Regions from separate parts of the Homo sapiens genome. Here region 1 is reported to be linked to region 2. The links are microRNA targets in miRTarBase. Many come from high-throughput screens and were not tested one by one. Region 2 holds a microRNA gene; the other region holds the end of a gene's coding sequence.

Region 1 (9,308 bases), not on the chromosome of region 2:
TTGGAAATTCTAGGACACTTAGAATTGTTGCAGAATGGTCCTTAGGTCCTTTGAGGATTATTTAAAATCTTGCTTAGATAAAAAGCAAATGGTTTGGAAGCCAGAGTGGTTATTGTGGCAGCATCGTGTCACCTATAAGACCCAAGGTAGAATGTGGAGATGTCTGGAGGTCAGGTCCTGGGGTCCTGCCCCAGGTCCCGCCCCAGCTCTACCACTGAGAGCTTCCACAAGGCCCTGTCCTCTCAGGCCACCCCACTGAGAACTAGCAGGCAGCAAAGGCAGGCATACCCTGGGGGGCTGGTATCGGGCCCTGGTTCTCCTCTTCTGGGTCCCAGGATCTGCAGACTCGAATGTCCCTGGTGTGGTTTGCACCGTCTGCCCTTTCAAATGCCCTCCCAGGCAGGTGCCTCCAGGGGCAGCGTGGCTCAGCCCTGCTGGTTTTTGCAGGTGTCCTGTCCATGGCTAATGCTGGTCCTAACACCAACGGCTCCCAGTTCTTCATCTGCACCATAAAGACAGACTGGTGAGTTCCCTGCCCCAGGCCCTCTGGGAATGCGGGCAGCCTTGCAGCTGGAGGAGGATTCGTGCACTTTTAGGGGCAGGCAGTTTACAGCCAGGCCTTCTGCTCTGGGACAGTGGCCCTCTCCCAGGCTGTGTGTTTGTATGAGAAAGAGAAAGTTAGTGGAAGGATCAAGGGAGAATTGGGGTTGTTCCTGCAACTCTGTCATGGTTCGGGTTCCCATTGTTGCTGTCACCTGGAATTTTCTGAGTGTGTTCTGCTCACACGCACACACGAAAGGGTTTCTCTACCAGATACATTTGGGAAATGTTGCAAAACATATTATGAGGCCTCAGGAGGGACTGAGTAGAAGCCCACTTGTGTGGTTTTAACCTGGAGTTTCCCAGGCTTGTCTTGACCATGGGCTGAGCCTTGGCAATGCTGCAGCAGACATTTGGATATCAGCAAATTTCCAAATGAAGCCTCTGTATTATCATAAACCTGCAGATAGCCACAGGCCTGTAAGGGCCCTGTTTTCAATGCCCATGGATTTTAGGGATGTCTCTTTCCTGGTACATTTTCCTCTAAGGGATAAATTTCTCTGGCCAGAGTCCCAAATGTCCTAGCCCTGGGGCACCTGGGGATGAACTGGCTGGGAGCTGACTTGGTAAAGCCCATTTCCGAGGATTTTAGGGAGACCTAGGTGGGGCAGACACTAGAAGTGTCCAGCCTCCAAGCCCAAGAGATGTGGCCGGCAGGGCTGGGCAGGTCCTTGCTGGCTCAGCCTGCTCTTTGCTCCTTCATGGGACCCCAGTGGATCCTGCAGTTCTGCTCTTGGCTGGAACCACGCCAGCTTCGCTGGAGCTGGACTGAGCCGCCTTTTACATTATTGGACTCTCTCGGGTTGAGAGCTGCCCAGGACTCCTGCAGTTTCACCACCCTTGTTCCTTTGACTCTTGACTCATCATTCATGACCGTTAACGTGGTTCCATTTGTATGGACTTCTTCTTTCTTCAGAGCATTTCAGTATCCTGTTACCTCCCCATGCAGAACAAAGAATACTCCACTTTTGATAGATGGGGTTACCAGGATTCAGGCTACATGGCCTGAGGCAAGGTCACAACATGAGTGACAGAATGTGTCCTGGAAGCCAGGCATCCTCTGGGGTGTATTTGGGGCGCTCAACAAGGCTTGATCGAGCTTTGGGGGTAGATCTAGCTATTCCATGGGGATTCTTTTCAGAATTGCTGTTTTCGGTAACTAATTCCATGACCAGGTCCATGGCATTGGATGACATTGCGCTACACTGTTGCTCACCCGGGTCACCCGTCCTCACAGGTTGGATGGCAAGCATGTTGTGTTCGGTCACGTCAAAGAGGGCATGGACGTCGTGAAGAAAATAGAATCTTTCGGCTCTAAGAGTGGGAGGACATCCAAGAAGATTGTCATCACAGACTGTGGCCAGTTGAGCTAATCTGTGGCCAGGGTGCTGGCATGGTGGCAGCTGCAAATGTCCATGCACCCAGGTGGCCGCGTTGGGCTGTCAGCCAAGGTGCCTGAAACGATACGTGTGCCCACTCCACTGTCACAGTGTGCCTGAGGAAGGCTGCTAGGGATGTTAGACCTCGGCCAGGACCCACCACATTGCTTCCTAATACCCACCCTTCCTCACGACCTCATTTCTGGGCATCTTTGTGGACATGATGTCACCCACCCCTTGTCAAGCATTGCCTGTGATTGCCCAGCCCAGATTCATCTGTGCCTTGGACATGGTGATGGTGATGGGTTGCCATCCAAGTGAAAGTCTTTTCCTTGACCAAGGGGGACAGTCAGTTTTGCAAAAGGACTCTAATACCTGTTTAATATTGTCTTCCTAATTGGGATAATTTAATTAACAAGATTGACTAGAAGTGAAACTGCAACACTAACTTCCCCGTGCTGTGGTGTGACCTGAGTTGGTGACACAGGCCACAGACCCCAGAGCTTGGCTTTTGAAACACAACTCAGGGCTTTTGTGAAGGTTCCCCCGCTGAGATCTTTCCTCCTGGTTACTGTGAAGCCTGTTGGTTTGCTGCTGTCGTTTTTGAGGAGGGCCCATGGGGGTAGGAGCAGTTGAACCTGGGAACAAACCTCACTTGAGCTGTGCCTAGACAATGTGAATTCCTGTGTTGCTAACAGAAGTGGCCTGTAAGCTCCTGTGCTCCGGAGGGAAGCATTTCCTGGTAGGCTTTGATTTTTCTGTGTGTTAAAGAAATTCAATCTACTCATGATGTGTTATGCATAAAACATTTCTGGAACATGGATTTGTGTTCACCTTAAATGTGAAAATAAATCCTATTTTCTATGGAAGACTGGTACCTGGTTTCTGGAAGAGGGGTCTGTGACTTGGAGCTGATCTTTACTGAGCTCGCCGTGGCAGATGCCATGCTCAGGACGTTCATGTGGATGGTTTCATGTCATCGTGCTGGCAACTTGTCCTCCCTGCCTTAGAGATGAGGCTCAGACAAACGACCTTAGCACCCATAGCCTATGCCATGAGCACTGGCTCCACCCTGAATCCCAGCTCCTCCCCTTAGTGACCCCAAGTCTGTTTCCCTCAGCTGCATAAGGAGGCGATATAGTTTGAATATTTGTCCCCAGCCAAATCTCATGTTGAACTGTAATCCCCAGTGCTGGAGGTGGGGCCTGCTACGAGGTGTTTGGATCATGGGGACGGGTATTTCATGGCTTGGTGCTGTTTTCTTGATGGTGAATTATTGCAAGATACGGTCATTTAAAATTGTGTGGCACCTCCCCCTGCCCCCTTCTTGCTCCTGCTTTCACCATGTGACATGCCTGATCCCCCTTCACCTTTTGCCATGGTCATAAGCTTCCTGAGGCCTCCCTGGAAGCTGAGCAGATGCCAGCACCATGCTTCCTGTACATCCTGCAGAACCATAAGCCAATTAAACCTTTTTAATAATAAATTACTCAGTCTCAAGTATTTTTTTATAGCAATACAAGAATCCTAACACGGGTTAACAATAAGGCCCACCTCGTAGGGTGGTGATCCACGTGAAGTGCATAACGCAGTGTCTGGCGCACCTTCCTAAGCACTCTGGAGTGACAAGGATGATGACCTTTCCCCTGTCAGGGTCTTAGGAAGGAGGAGGGATGCCAGAGCAAAGGAGCCTCCATCATCTGAGGTTAGGAGTGGACTTCCTAGGATAAGCCAGTTCCATTTGGAATTGACTTCTAGGTGTTTCCAAATTCACAGGGAAGGCAGGATTGGAGGTAAGAGCTTCCCTAGGTAGACAGGGCTGTGGTGTGGCCCGGCAGTTGAGTGGTCAGGCAGGCAGTTCTCAGAGGAAATTTGGGCCCTTTTGAGGGCATCTAACAGAATTATTTCTCACTGGGGTTCCCTGAGTGAGGTTATGTGTAGTCTTAGGTTAATGGAGTCACTCTGAGGTCATGGTGACTGGGGTCGGGTCATTTGGAGTCATGGAGAGTTCCCATGAAGTCAGTTTCAGTAGGACAAGTAGTCTTAAAACAATTATCAAGAGCGTTAAGAGTCCTCAAAGCAGACAAGGAGGACACAAGGAGCATGGGCCCCTGAACCCCATTTGCAGTCATAGATGCCCTCCATTTATATTGGGGTTCTGTAAGGGATTTCATTTGAAGAATAGGATCTTGAGCCAAATCATAATTAGTAATTTCTCATCCAGTCCAACACTTTACAGATGGGTAAACTGAGACCCCAAGAGGGATTATGATTGTCCCATGTGACCCTGTGAATCAATTGGCAAAACGGGCTAGAATCCAGGGTTTTTGGCAGTCTGCAGGGATTTCTGTTGGGGGCCTTCGAGAATGCACAGGTGCCTTGGGGGACATATTGCCAAAGGTTCTCAGGCCACACACATTCAGAGCACAACTGATCTCTGAGGTCAAAGCCCACAGCTTCACTCCCTCTGGAGTTTCCTCTTTTGGGGCTTATGTTTAGTCATTGTGTTTCCTTCTTGCTGAGGAGAGTGTGTGTGTGTGCACGCGTGTATGTGTGTGTGTCTATGTGTGTGTATCTCCACCCAGAGAAGTCTAAGGTGAGGTGAGGGTGCACCAAACATGCAGGAATCTCCTAAAAACCGAGTTCCCTGAAAGCAGGGCCGTTCCCTGTGCTGCTCATTCCCTGAGCTCCCTGCACAAAGGCCTGAGCCTAGTCATATTTCTTGCATAAAGCAAGAACATAAGTAATATACAAATAAAATACTGGCTTGTTTCTGGCCAGTGAGCACTCAATACCTCATGCATAAATGAGGCAGTGAGTCTTACACATGCACTCATAGATGTAATCATAAGTGGTGCCATGTACACACGATTTTTAAAAAAAATCTGAAACATCAATTTTATTTTCTGTGATGTGATAGCTTTTCAAAATGATTTCATTGAGGTATATTTACGTACAAGAAAAGTCACTTCAAGTGTACACATCAATGACTTTTGACAAAAGCATATACTAGTAATATCTATCACCAAATTAAGATACAGAATGTTTCCGTCTTTCCAGAAAGTTCTCTCTGTGCCCCTTCCCAGGCAGCCACTGGATCTTATCCCTGTAATTTTGCCTGTTCTAGAACTTTGTAGAAATGGTATTGAGCAGGGTTCACTTTTTCATGTCTGGCTTCTCCAGTGTGGCATGTGTGAGAATGTGTGAGGCTCTAATATGCTTCTGGGTTCTAAAGAATCTTGCTCCATGAAAAGGAATTTCTTAAAGGTTTCGTAGGTCTGGGAAGGCCTAAAGCAATGCTTCTAGGAATCACAGAGTGCCAGTAAATCATGCAGATTTCTGGCCATACCTGAGACGCCTTTTGAATATTTGCATCTAGGAATCTGAATTTTAAAATAATAATTCTGAGAGGTGAAGCCAGCTGGACATCCCTTGGGGAACTTTCCTGTCTTACAAGAGGATTGTAAAATGCACCAATCAGCGCTCTGTAAAATGCACCAATCAGCACTCTGTAAAACGGACCAATCAGCAGGATTCTGAAAGTAGCCATTCGTGGGGAGGACTGAAAAAAGGCACTCTGATAGGACAGAAATGGAACATGGGCGGGGACAAATAAGGGAATAAAAGTTGGCTATCCCAACCAGCAGCCGCAACTGGCTCGGGTCTCTTTCCGTGTTGTGGAAACTTTGTCCTTTCCCTCTTCACAATAAACCTTGCTACCGCTCACTTGTGCCATCTTTAAGAGCTGTAACACTCACCGTGAAGGGCCGTGGCTCCATTCTCGAAGTCAACGAGACCATGAACTCTCCGGCAGGAAGCAATTCCGGAGACAAATCTGATAAAGCTTAAGAATTTGAGTGTAGCCACAGTGGGTAAGAGTGAAAGGGAAGGTCATGGCTCAACACTAGAGTCATCATTTACTTCTGGAAACATTTTTTACTGGACTTTCTGGGACTCTAGTGTGACACCCTCCACTTTTAAAAGAAGCCTCACTTAAGGAGTCTGACCGACAAGTCTCGGATGACTGGGTGGGGCACATCCTATTCCACTCAAGCTCTGTGGAGGCCAGTGGGCAGGGGAGCTCCTCGATAGCGCTGGTCAAAGTGGCCAGCCAGGCATGGTGGCTCATGCCTGTAATCCCAGCACTTTGGGAAGCAGAGGTGAACGGATTGCTTGAGCCCAGGGGTTTCAGACCAGCCTGGTCAACATAGTGAGATCGCATCTCTACAAAAAAAAAAAAAAAAAAAAAAAAAAAAAAAAAAATTAAAACTTAGCTGGGCTTGGTGACATGTGCCTGTGGTCCCAGCTACTCGGGAGGCTGAGGTAAGAGGATCACTTGAGCCCAGGAGCCGGAGGCTGCAGTGAGCCATGATCATGCCACGGGACTGCAGTCTGGGTGACAGAGCAACACGCTGTCTCAAAAAGAGAAAAGAAAAAGTGGCTCCCCCTGTCTTTGCCTATGCAGGAGCCTGTGAAGGAAGAAGCTCCTAGAGGGGTGGAGGCCCCAGCTCTTGTTTTGTCATCTAGGAGGAGGGGCTGCCTTGGGTGGGTCTTGGATGGAGTGCATTTCTCAGTGAGTGGATTGCGGAGGCCAGAAGTCAGCTCTATGTCCAAGATTCTTCAGAATATGGCAGGTAGAGAAAGTCTTGGGTCCATTCTGCCTCCCAGATCACCCAGCCTGTAGAGGCTGTCCAGAATTATGCTGATAACATTATTGCTATTCTATCATATTGTGATCGTTAATTTTATGGGTCAATTTTTTTTTTTTGAGATGGGGTCTCACTCTGTCACCCATGCCGGAGTGCAGTGGCACAATCATAGCTTGCTGTAACCTCAAACTCCTAGGCTCAAGCAATCCTTCCACCTCAGCACCCTGAGTAGCTGGGACTACAGGCACGTGCCACCATGCTTGGCTATTTATTTTTTATTTTTTTAAAAGATGCGGGTCTTGCTGTATTTCCCAGGCCAGTCTCTCCTGGCCCCAAGTGGTCCTCCCACTTCAAATTCCTAAAATGTTGAGATTATAGGTGTCAGGCACCACACCCAGCCTTATGTGTCAACCTAACTGGGTCACAGAGTGCTTACACATTGGGTCAGACACTATTCTGGGTGTGTCTGTGAGGGTGTTTCTGTCTAAGATTAATATTTGCATAGCTAGACCGAGTAAAGCAGGTGGTTCTCCCTCGTGTGGGTGGACTTCGTCCAGTCAACTGAAGACCTGAATAGAACAAAAGGCTAAGAGGGAACGCCTCCTGCCTGACGGTCCTCAGCTGGAACATTGGTATTTTCTGCCTTTGGACTCAAACTGAAATGTTGGCTGTCTCAGGGTCTTGAGCCTGCCAGCCTTCAGACTGGAACCTACATTGGCTCTTCTGGTTCTCAGGCCTTCAGACTCGGACTGGACCTACACCATTGGCTCTCCTGGGTCTCCAGCCCGCCAACTACAGGTGGTGGGTCTTCTCAGCCCCCATGATCACATGAGCCAATTCCTTATGTTTTTGTATCATATATATCTTATGTATATGGTATAAATATATACACACACACACACACACACACATATATATTCTACTGATTCTGTTTCTCTTACACATATTGTCTTTTTTCTATTTATAAAACCAAAATGCACATGTAAAAATTCAAATGTTACATAATTATATAATATAGAGAATTAGCATTGCCTACAATCCTATTACAGTAATAGTTGGTATAGGTTTCTGCATTTGCTTAGCTGCAAAGACCACCACTCCTTTCCTAACAATGAGAAGAAGTTGAATAAACTACAAAATCGTAACTTTTCTTGAGCTCACCAGAAAGGCAACCAAATAACCTGAGTTTCAAAGAGGAACAAAGCGGCCAGTCGCCGTGGCTCACGCCTGTAATCCCAGCACTTTGGGAGGCCAAGGTGGGCGGATCACCTGAGGTCAGGAGTTGGAGACCAGCCTGGCCAACGTGGTGAAACCCTGTCTCTACTAAAAATAAAAAAAAAATAGCCGAGCATGGTGGTGCATGCCTGTAATCTCAGCTACTCTGGAGACTGAGGCAGGAGAATCACTTGAACCGGGAGGCGGAGGTTGCAATGAGCCGAGATTGCACCACTGCACTCTAGCCTGGGCAACAGAGTGAGACTCCATCTCAAAAAAAAAAAAAAAAAAAAGAGGAACAAGGCCCTGCAAGGAGAGACAGGACACACAGTTTCACCTGTGGCAGAGCACTGTAGGAAGATATGACCATGAAACAACTGTGTAAAATAAAATAAAATTAGGTAAGCCTTTTAATGAATTGCTAAAGGCCAAGAGGGGGCTAATGTGTCCATCTGGAGTAGCTGGGGACCCCAGATGCAAAGGGAGTTCAACATCTTTCTCCAGGCTCCCACCAGATGCACAGAAGACCTAAGAGGTAGCCCAACTTGGTGGTTCAGGTCTGCAGGAGGGGACCTTCAGCTGCTGGAGAAAGGCACGGAGCCTCGTCCACTTCCTCAGGTTCTTCTCTCCAATGAAGTAAATTTGAGAATCCACTGGGAGGTTGGGCATTACACCATCCACCCCCAGGAACATGTAAAAGTGCACTGTGGCTGGGGGAAGTAGAACACACATCCTTTTATCCCTGTGGGAGGGGTAAGAAGCCATCCAGGGCCCAGGATCCTTTAGCGATACCAACCAGAAATTGACTACCTCTGGTGGAAGAGGGAGCAAGAAACAGCCAAGACATGCCTAAGACTAAGGCGGGATGAGGACAGCAGAAAAGCCTCCTGCCTTACTATGAGCCTGGTCTACCAGTGGGGGAGGGCGGGGCATGGAGAGAGACACCCTCCGTATTGCAGAAAGCTGAGTGTGGAGTCTAAACAATCCTTTGGCACCCCAGCTCCACTGTAAGCACAAGTCAACAGTAATCCACCACTTAAGGAATTTGAAGCCTATGGAGCTCTGAAAGCAAGAATAGCAACACAAACCCCAAATCCAGCTCAACCCCTGAGGCGACTAACTCAATTTCCCACAATAATGGCCTGAAAGAATCAGTGGCATGCCTGTTTCCAGTGTACATACTGTATTAGTCAGGGTTCTTCAGAGAACTAGAACCAATTGGATGTGTATATATGTATAGGCAGAGGGAGAGAGAGAGATTGAGAGATTTTAATTAATTGGCTCATGCAGTTGTGGGACCTGGGCAATTCCAAATTCTGCAGGACAGGCCAGCAGGCTGGTGACTCAGGGAAGAGTTGATTTTGGAGCTTGGGTTCAAGAAGCAAAATGCCACCTTCTTTGGTGGACCTTAGTCTTTTTCTCTTAAAGTCTTCAACTGATTGGATGAGGCCCACCACATTATGGA
Region 2 (9,308 bases):
TATCATAGATAATAATTTAATGGCCAAAAATATTTTCTCTCATTTATTTTAATGAAATATGATAGTTTGACCTTTTGGCCTAAGATTGTGTTAATTTAATTTCTGTATATGGTTTGAAATATGGATCAAGATTCATATTCTTCATATATATATCACATTTCCCAGCATCTCGTTGTGTAAATATTAATATTATTATTTCATTTCTTCATTAGATTGACTTTACAGCTTAGTCAAAATGAATTGGTGACATACATAGATATTTCTGGTCTTTCCATTCAATTTGTCCATCCTTCAGTACCACACTATATTGGCTAATCTAGTTAGACAGTAAAGCTGAAAATTACAAGTGTAAATTCTCCAGCTTTGTGATTCTCTTTCAGATTGTTTGTTTTGGATATTTCAGATTGTTTGTTTTGGATATTCTAGTTTATTTGCTTTTATATCAGTTTTAGAATCATCATGCTAATGTCTACAAATGTCCTTCTAGGACATTGGCTGGAATTTCATTAACTCTATAGAGCAATAGAACTCTGTAAATTTATAGATTTGAATCCTTCAATCGATAAATATGATACTCCTCTCCACTTACTTAGTAATTATTTGATTCTCTTAGTATATTTACAGATGTTTTTGGTTTTCTACTGATACTGTAAGAAATTGCCACAAATTTAGTTGTTTACAACAACACAAATTTATTATGTTAGAGTCTAAAGGTCAGAAATAATATAAATTAGCTTTACCTCGGCTAAAATGAAGGCATTGGCAGGGCTTTGTTCCTTCTGTTGGCTCTAGAGGAGAATCTACTTGATTGTCTTTAGAAGATTCTACTTGCTTCCTCCATTCTTTGGCTCATGGCCTTTATACCTTTTCCAATGTTTCTCTTATTCTAACCACCTTCCTTCTACTTATAAGGAACCCTGTGATTATGTTGGGCTCACCTAGATAATCTAGGATAATCCCAATCTCAAAATATTTAATCATATCTACAAATTTCTTTCTACCACAAAATGTGATGTTTTTGAGTTCAGGGGTTACTCTGTAAACATCTTTTGGAGGGGGACTGTTTGTTTGTTATTCTGCATACCACAGAGATCTTGTAATTTGTATTTAGACTTTCACCTAAATATTTTATGTTGTGTTTTAATTAGCTTGATTTAATCATTGTATAATATATACATATATCCAAACATCATGTTGTACACCTTAAATATATACAAAGTTGGTAGAAACACGGATGAATGATACAAAAAAGTATTTCTTTTTTTTGTTATTATTTTTTTATTATACTTTTTAAGTTTTAGGGTACATGTGCACATTGTGCAGGTTAGTTACATATGTATACATGTGCCATGCTGGTGCGCTGCACCCACTAACTCATCATCTAGCATTAGGTATATCTCCCATTGCTATCCCTCCCCCCACCCCACCACAGTCCCCAGAGTGTGATATTCCCCTTCCTGTGTCCATGTGATCTCATTGTTCAATTCCCACCTATGAGTGAGAATATGCGGTGTTTGGTTTTTTGTTCTTGCGATAGTTTACGGAGAATGATGATTTCCAAATTTCATCCATGTCCCTACAAAGGACATGAACTCATCCTTTTTTATGGCTGCATAGTATTCCATGGTGTATATGTGCCACATTCTCTTAATCCAGTCTATCATTGTTGGACATTTGGGTTGGTTCCAAGTCTTTGCTATTGTGAATAATGCCGCAATAAACATACGTGTGCATGTGTCTTTATAGCAGCATGATTTATAGTCCTTTGGGTATATACCCAGTAATGGGATGGCTGGGTCAAATGGTATTTCTAGTTCTAGATCCCTGAGGAATCGCCACACTGACTTCCACAATGGTTGAACTAGTTTACAGTCCCACCAACAGTGTAAAAGTGTTCCTATTTCTCCACATCCTCTCCAGCACCTGTTGTTTCCTGACTTTTTAATGATTGCCATTCTAACTGGTGTGAGATGGTATCTCATTGTGGTTTTCATTTGCATTTCTCTGATGGCCAGTGATGGTGAGCATTTTTTCACGTGTTTTTGGCTGCATAAATGTCTTCTTTTGAGAAGTGTCTGTTCATGTCCTTTGCCCACTTTTTGATGGGGTTGTTTGTTTTTTTCTTGTAAATTTGTTTGAGTTCATTGTAGATTCTGGATATTAGCCCTTTGTCAGATGAGTAGGTTGCCTGTTCACTCTGATGGTAGTTTCTTTTGCTGTGCAGAAGCTCTTTAGTTTAATTAGATCCCATTTGTCAATTTTGGCTTTTGTTGCCATTGCTTTTGGTGTTTTAGACATGAAGTCCTTGCCCATGCCTATGTCCTGAATGGTATTGCCTAGGTTTTCTTCTAGGGTTTTTATGGTTTTAGGTCTAACGTTTAAATCTTTAATCCATCTTGAATTGATTTTTGTATAAGGTGTAAGGAAGGGATCCAGTTTCAGCTTTCTACATATGGCTAGCCAGTTTTCCCAGCACCATTTATTAAACAGGGAATCCTTTCCCCATTGCTTGTTTTTCTCAGGTTTGTCAAAGATCAGATAGTTGTAGATATGCGGCATATGCGGCATTATTTCTGAGGGCTCTGTTCTGTTCCATTGATCTAGATCTCTGTTTTGGTACCAGTACCATGCTGTTTTGGTTACTGTAGCCTTGTAGTATAGTTTGAAGTCAGGTAGTGTGAAGCCTCCAGCTTTGTTCTTTTGGCTTAGGATTGACTTGGCGATGCGGGCTCTTTTTTGGTTCCATATGAACTTTAAAGTAGTTTTTTCCAGTTCTGTGAAGAAAGTCATTGGTAGCTTTATGGGGATGGCATTGAATCTGTAAATTACCTTGGGCAGTATGGCCATTTTCACGATATTGATTCTTCCTACCCATGAGCATGGAATGTTCTTCCATTTGTTTGTATCCTCTTTTATTTCCTTGAGCAGTGGTTTGTAGTTCTCCTTGAAGAGGTCCTTCACATCCCTTGTAAGTTGGATTCCTAGGTATTTTATTCTCTTTGAAGCAATTGTGAATGGGAGTTCACTCATGATTTGGCTCTCTCTCTGTTTGTCTGTTGTTGGTGTATAAGAATGACAAACTATCTCTCGGACCACAGTGCAATCAAACTAGAACTCAGGATTAAGAATCTCACTCAAAGCCGCTCAACTACATGGAAACTGAACAACCTGCTCCTGGATGACTACTGGGTACATAACGAAATGAAGGCAGAAATAAAGATGTTCTTTGAAACCAACGAGAACAAAGACACAACATACCAGAATCTCTGGGACACATTCAAAGCAGTGTGTAGAGGGAAATTTATAGCACTAAATGCCCACAAGAGAAAGCAGGAAAGATCCAAAATTGACACCCTAACAACACAATTAAAAGAACTAGAAAAGCAAGAGCAAACACATTCAAAAGCTAGCAGAAGGCAAGAAATAACTAAAATCAGAGCAGAACTGAAGGAAATAGAGACACAAAAAACCCTTCAAAAAATCAATGAATCCAGGAGCTGGTTTTTTGAAAGGATCAGCAAAATTGATAGACCACTAGCAAGACTAATAAAGAAAAAAAGAGACAAGAATCAAATAGACACAATAAAAAAATGATAAAGGGGATATCACCACCCATCCCACAGAAATACAAACTACCATCAGAGAACACTACAAACGCCTCTACGCAAATAAACTAAACTAGAAAATCTAGAAGAAATGGACACATTCCTCGACACATACACTCTCCCGAGACTAAACCAGGAAGAAGTTGAATCTCTGAATAGACCACCAGGAAGAAGTTGAATCTCTGAATAGACCAATAACTAACAGGAGCTGAAATTGTGGCAATAATCAATAGTTTACCAACCAAAAAGAGTCCAGGACCAGATGGATTCACAACCGAATTCTACCAGAGGTACAAGGAGGAACTGGTACCATTCCTTCTGAAACTATTCCAATCAATAGAAAAAGAGGGAATCCTCCCTAACTCATTGTATGAGGCCAGCATCATTCTGATACCAAAGCCGGGCAGAGACACAACCAAAAAAGAGAATTTTAGACCAATATCCTTGATGATCATTGATGCAAAAATCCTCAATAAAATACTGGCAAAACGAATCCAGCAGAACATCAAAAAGCTTATCCACCATGATCGAGTGGGCTTCATCCCTGGGATGCAAGGCTGGTTCAATATACGCAAATCAATAAATGTAATCCAGCATATAAACGGAGCCAAAGACAAAAACCACATGATTATCTCAATAGATGCAGAAAAAGCCTTTGACAAAATTCAACAACCCTTCATGCTAAAAACTCTCAATAAATTAGGTATTGATGGGACGTATTTCAAAATAATAAGAGCTATCTATGACAAACCCACAGCCAATATCATACTGAATGGGCAAAAAGTGGAAGCATTCCCTTTGAAAACTGGCACAAGACAGGGATGCCCTCTCTCACCACTCCTATTCAAGATAGTGTTGGAAGTTCTGGCCAGGGCAACCAGGCAGGAGAAGGAAATAAAGGGTATTCAATTAGGAAAAGAGGAAGTCAAATTGTCCCTGTTTGCAGACGACATGACTGTATATCTAGAAAACCCCATTGTCTCAGCCCAAAATCTCCTTAAGCTGATAAGCAACTTCGGCAAAGTCTCAGGATACAAAATCAATGTACAAAAATCACAAGCATTCTTATACAAAAAAGTATTTCACTGAAAGAAAAACCATAAATACCAGTGAATATAGTACTCTTTTTGAGAAATCCTAAAAGAGATAGTACTCTTTTTGAGAAATCCTAAAAGAGATATAACTAAATTCTCTGTCTTTGTTTCATTTTACGATATCACTTATTTAAGTACACATGAATTCTCTCTAATACAGTTTTAGAAATTATATGCTAAAAAGAGTTATCACTTTGGAAATTTCTACACACATACAGTATTTCCAACGGACAGAATTTTTTTTTATTATTCAGAATGTCCCCCCGCCTCCAATGAAAAAAGTTCTATATATTCTATTAGTACAATTGTTTTAATATTGAAAAAGATACTTCAACTGATTTTTTTTACTTCCAGACATTAATGGTCTTATACATATTCATCCATTCTGAACCTAAAAAAACAAACATAAACTAAAATCCTGCCTGTAACCATATAGTAATTGTTTTTTTATAGTTTCTCTCTTTCGGTGTATATGCTGTAACCTCTATTTCCGTTGGAATCAAAATTGTATTAATCAATCACTTACTATTTATAACATTTTTAAACACATTTCCCCAATATAAGTAGCTTATTTATATATAACCTACTTCTAAAAAATGCATACTAGTTTCATGCTGCAGATGGCCTCACACCATCTGGCACTTGTCTTACTCTTGTGCACGTGCGTATTTGCCTCTTTCTCTCTCCATTAGGTTGAGTTAAGAAGTGTCAACACAAGAAAATGGGGCCGGGCATGGTGGTTCACGCCTGTAATCCCAGCAATTTGGGAGGGTGAGGTGGGTGGATCACGAGGTCAGCAGTTCGACACCAGTCTGACCAACGTGGTGAAACCTGGTCTCTACTAAAAATACAAAAATTAGCCAGGTGTGTTGGCGCACGCCTGTAATCCCAGCTACTTGGGAGGCTGAGGCAGAAGAATCGCTTGAACCCGGGAGACAGAGGTTGCAGTGAGCTGAGATGGCGCCACTGCACTCCAGCCTGTGTGAAAGAGTAAGAAAGACTCCATCTCAAAAAAAAAAAAGACAGAAAATGGGGAGAGAAGACTAGGAGATATCTCTTGAGTAACAACTCTATCATACGCTTCCATTGTTCAAACATAAAAAACAGGGAAAAAAGATAATGGAAAAGGGTGAAATATTCTTGGGTGGACTACGCTTAACCCTCCATAAATTGGTGACTGAAGGCTTTGAAAGGTATTTTAAAAGTCTATGAGAAAATGTTTTAGTCTTTGACAGAAAATGGACACTGTGGATCAGCAATGAAGGGACCTGAGAGGCAGGAGAGTCTTTTGGGAGCGCTAAAGGAGAATCCTTGCAAATGATGACTTCTTGATAAGTGAGAAAAGTTTAGGAATCTGGAATATAGCCTTCCAGCTGACGAAGAATGGCTGTGGCCTCTATCCAATGTATTTCTTATTTGAGCCAAGCCTCATTTGGCAAAAATAGATAAATTCTTAAGGAACCGAAGTGCATGCGTTTTCTCAGGAGTCCACAGTTCCTATGTATAGTCATTTAGAAGGCACAAAAAGTTCCCTGAAGTAGCCCAGCACTGAAGAGTGGGTGCACAGGATGCAAAACAGGCATCACCATGCTCGCAGCTACACCCCCATCCTCAGGGACACCACATATGCAGTGCATGCTGTACATTACCCTTCTCAGAAAGGTGAAATTTATATTTTAGTTCACATAAATGACACCTCCCTGTGAAAGGCACTGCACACTGAATGGCTGAATGTGGCATCCAAGAACAAATGCTCCCTATTCATGCCGTTTTTTTTCAAGTCCCTATAGGTGTATGCCTTGGCATGGCCACCAAGATTTATGCCAAGGGACAATGCAACTTGTAGCCCCCGGCGCTCCCCTTTTCATCCTGCCCCAAGTGAGATTTTAACATGCAGATTTTTGTTTTGTTTTTGTTTTTGTTTTCAGATGAAGTCTGGCTCTGTCGCCCAGACTGGCATGCATTGGTGTGATCTCGGCTCACTGCAACCTCCCCCTTCTGTGTCTAAGCACTTCTCCTGCCTCAGCCTCCCAAGTAGCTGGGATTAAAGGCACATACCACCGCGAATGGCTAATTAACACACAAATTTTAGGCTTAGCCAGAATATAACATTTCACTTCATCTCTTCCCCAGAGATGTGTAATCCTTGTCTGGATTATCCCATTAGTTTTCGCGTTAATTTGCTTGTCTCATTAAAAATCCTCAATATCAGGCCAGGTGCAGTGGGTCACACATATAATCTCATCACTCTGGTAGGCTGAGGCTGGTGGATCATCAGAGGTCAGGATTTTGAGACCAGCCTGGACAACGTGGTGAAATTCCATCTCTACTACAAATACAAAAAATTAGCCGGGTGTGGTGGTGGGCAACTGTAACCGCAGCTGCTGAGGCAGGAGAATCACTTGAACCCGGGAGGTGGAGGTTGCAGTGAGCCGAGATCATGCCACTGAATCACTTGAACCCGGGAGGTGGAGGTTGCAGTGAGCCGAGATCATGCCACTGCACCCCAGCCTGGGCAACAGAGTTAGTTAGACTCTTTCTCAAAAAAAAAAAACAAAAAAAAACTATATATATATATATGTGTGTGTGTGTGTGTGTGTGTGTGTGTGTGTGTGTGTGTGTGTGATGTACACAAATAATCATGAGCTGAGGCAAATTAAAAGACCTGGATTCTTCTAGCTCTGGCCCTTGATAGCATGTAGAAGTCAGACCACATGATCGTCAAGACCGAGTGTTTCTATGTACCATTCTCATTCATCTACTAAACATAACCCCTGAAAGACAGACAGAGAAGCACATAGCTCAGTGTTAGTGCTGAGTCACGGTCAAGGAGCCATAGTTCACTGAACAGAATGATTCTAAATATCTCAAGCATTTTACTGCATTTTTTGAATTCCATGAAAAGCAACCAAAGTTAGATTCTACAGAAATATTTATATATATCAATCAATCAATCAATCAATTTAGCTTTTCTCTTAAGTATTTGGGCCCTTGAGCTATCTCCCCAAAAAGTTCTCAAGGGGAAAAAAATACACAGACACAATACTCCCTCCTTCAAACACCAGTACAGGTACTACTTCTCTTCCTCTGCATCACCCACCCCTCAGTAGCTTCAAAGGAGTCTTTCCAGCAACCTGGCACATCATAGCAGGAGATTCTAAGACCCACTGCTCCATGAAACCACATACACAGACACATATACGCCCAAGTAAACAATATTAAAAAGAATGAGAATACAACAAAATATGAATACAAAAAAACTAACCATAAACAGAATTGATAAGCCATCGAAAGAACCCTAGCAATACACAATGCAAAGTTCCAACAACATATGTGCAAATTAATATGCAAATTAAAATATAACCGAAATCACACAGTGAAATCCAAATAACAACAAAAAGAAAATACAAAATTGCAAGCAATGTACGTAAAGAAATACCAATCAAAACACCAATGACCAAGAGCATGGCAAATCTGAAAACAAATTCAAACAAACACATATAATCCCAAAGGAGCCAAAGTCAAACAAACAAAGCAAAACCATACACATGAAATAAACTGATAAGAATAGCAAAAGCAAAACAAAAACAAAACAGAGATCCAACCTCAAACAAAAACAACATAACAAAATCCTCATGCTACATGCCCCGTGCACACACAAATGTATGGGCACATACACCAAAGTGCACACAGATACATGTATTACTCCCCCCATCACCATATAAACACAAACAAATGTGCTAGAACACATGCTAAAAACTCACAATCACCAACAAATATATCAGGGTATCTGAGCCTCAAAGCCCAAGGAAATCCTATGAGTGCAAGAAGGATGGAAATAGATACGATGAAGGGTAGCCACATGTAGTTGAATGGTAATACTATTAGGAAAGAAAGTAGAGTAGTTTTCTTCTATTTCATTGTAACCTACATTTCCCATCAAGTTCTTGAGTTGGGGAGGGGCATGTGGTTGTTTGGAGATGGGAAACAAACTCAAATTACACAACCCATATTTGCCAACACTTGACTATAATTTGATAGGGTTTACCTGAAAGGAGGCATCAAGCTCTCTCACATTTTTCAGCACAGAAGTGTAAAAGACTCACTGCTCCAGTCGTGTCTGTCTGTCTCTTTCAGTCTGGCTCTGCTTGATTGTCTTTCTCTTTCTCTTTCTCTTTCTCTCGTAACAGCCATAGTTTAAGAAGAGATATCTTGAAAACACGGAAAGAGAAAAGTCAATACAATATTTCCTAATTTTTTAAGAGGTCAGAGAAGGGAGTTACTGTGTGGCCTGGAGCAGGTGATTCTGACTACCAAGGGAAAATTGGAGTACTACTCCACAATGGAGGTAAGGAAGAATATTTCTGAAATACATAAGATGTCTCTTAGTATTACTATGCCTTGTGATTAAGGTCAGTAGAAAACTACAACAACCCAATCCTGGCAGGACTACTAATGGCCCAGACCCTTCAGAAATGAAAGTTTGGGTCACTCTACCAGGTAAAATATAATGGCTGAGGTGCTTGCTGAAGGCAAAGGGAATACAAAATGGGTAGTGAAGAAAAGTAGTTGTAAATACCAGCTAACACCAGATGACAGTTACAGAAAT

The links. Region 2 holds the annotated microRNA hsa-miR-513a-5p (UUCACAGGGAGGUGUCAU, at 6,389-6,406, opposite strand). A microRNA usually pairs through its seed, bases 2 to 8, with sites in the 3' UTR of a target mRNA and lowers its output. Matches are read on the target gene's strand: a 7mer-m8 pairs with bases 2 to 8, a 7mer-A1 pairs with bases 2 to 7 and ends in A, and an 8mer does both.
Region 1: the mRNA of PPIF is a reported target of hsa-miR-513a-5p. Seed matches in the 3' UTR shown: 7mer-m8 at 2,230-2,236 and 7mer-A1 at 2,551-2,557.

What each region holds. Positions count from the first base shown.
Region 1 is chr10:79,351,870-79,361,177 of GRCh38, forward strand. PPIF (peptidylprolyl isomerase F) reads left to right here. Exons shown (of 6, transcript NM_005729.4): 5 at 448-523; 6 at 1,838-3,465. The coding sequence ends at 1,973. Among named protein-coding and RNA genes, the nearest start is that of PPIF, 9.1 kb to the left of the region's middle. RefSeq lists an enhancer at 1-351 and cis regulatory regions at 1,184-2,159, 1,191-2,145, 1,854-2,354, 2,152-2,652, 2,211-2,711 and 3 more.
Region 2 is chrX:147,219,512-147,228,819 of GRCh38, forward strand. MIR513A2 (microRNA 513a-2) reads right to left here and starts at 6,441; the gene lies at 6,315-6,441. The region is part of intron 2 of LOC105373347 (periphilin-1); the gene reads left to right.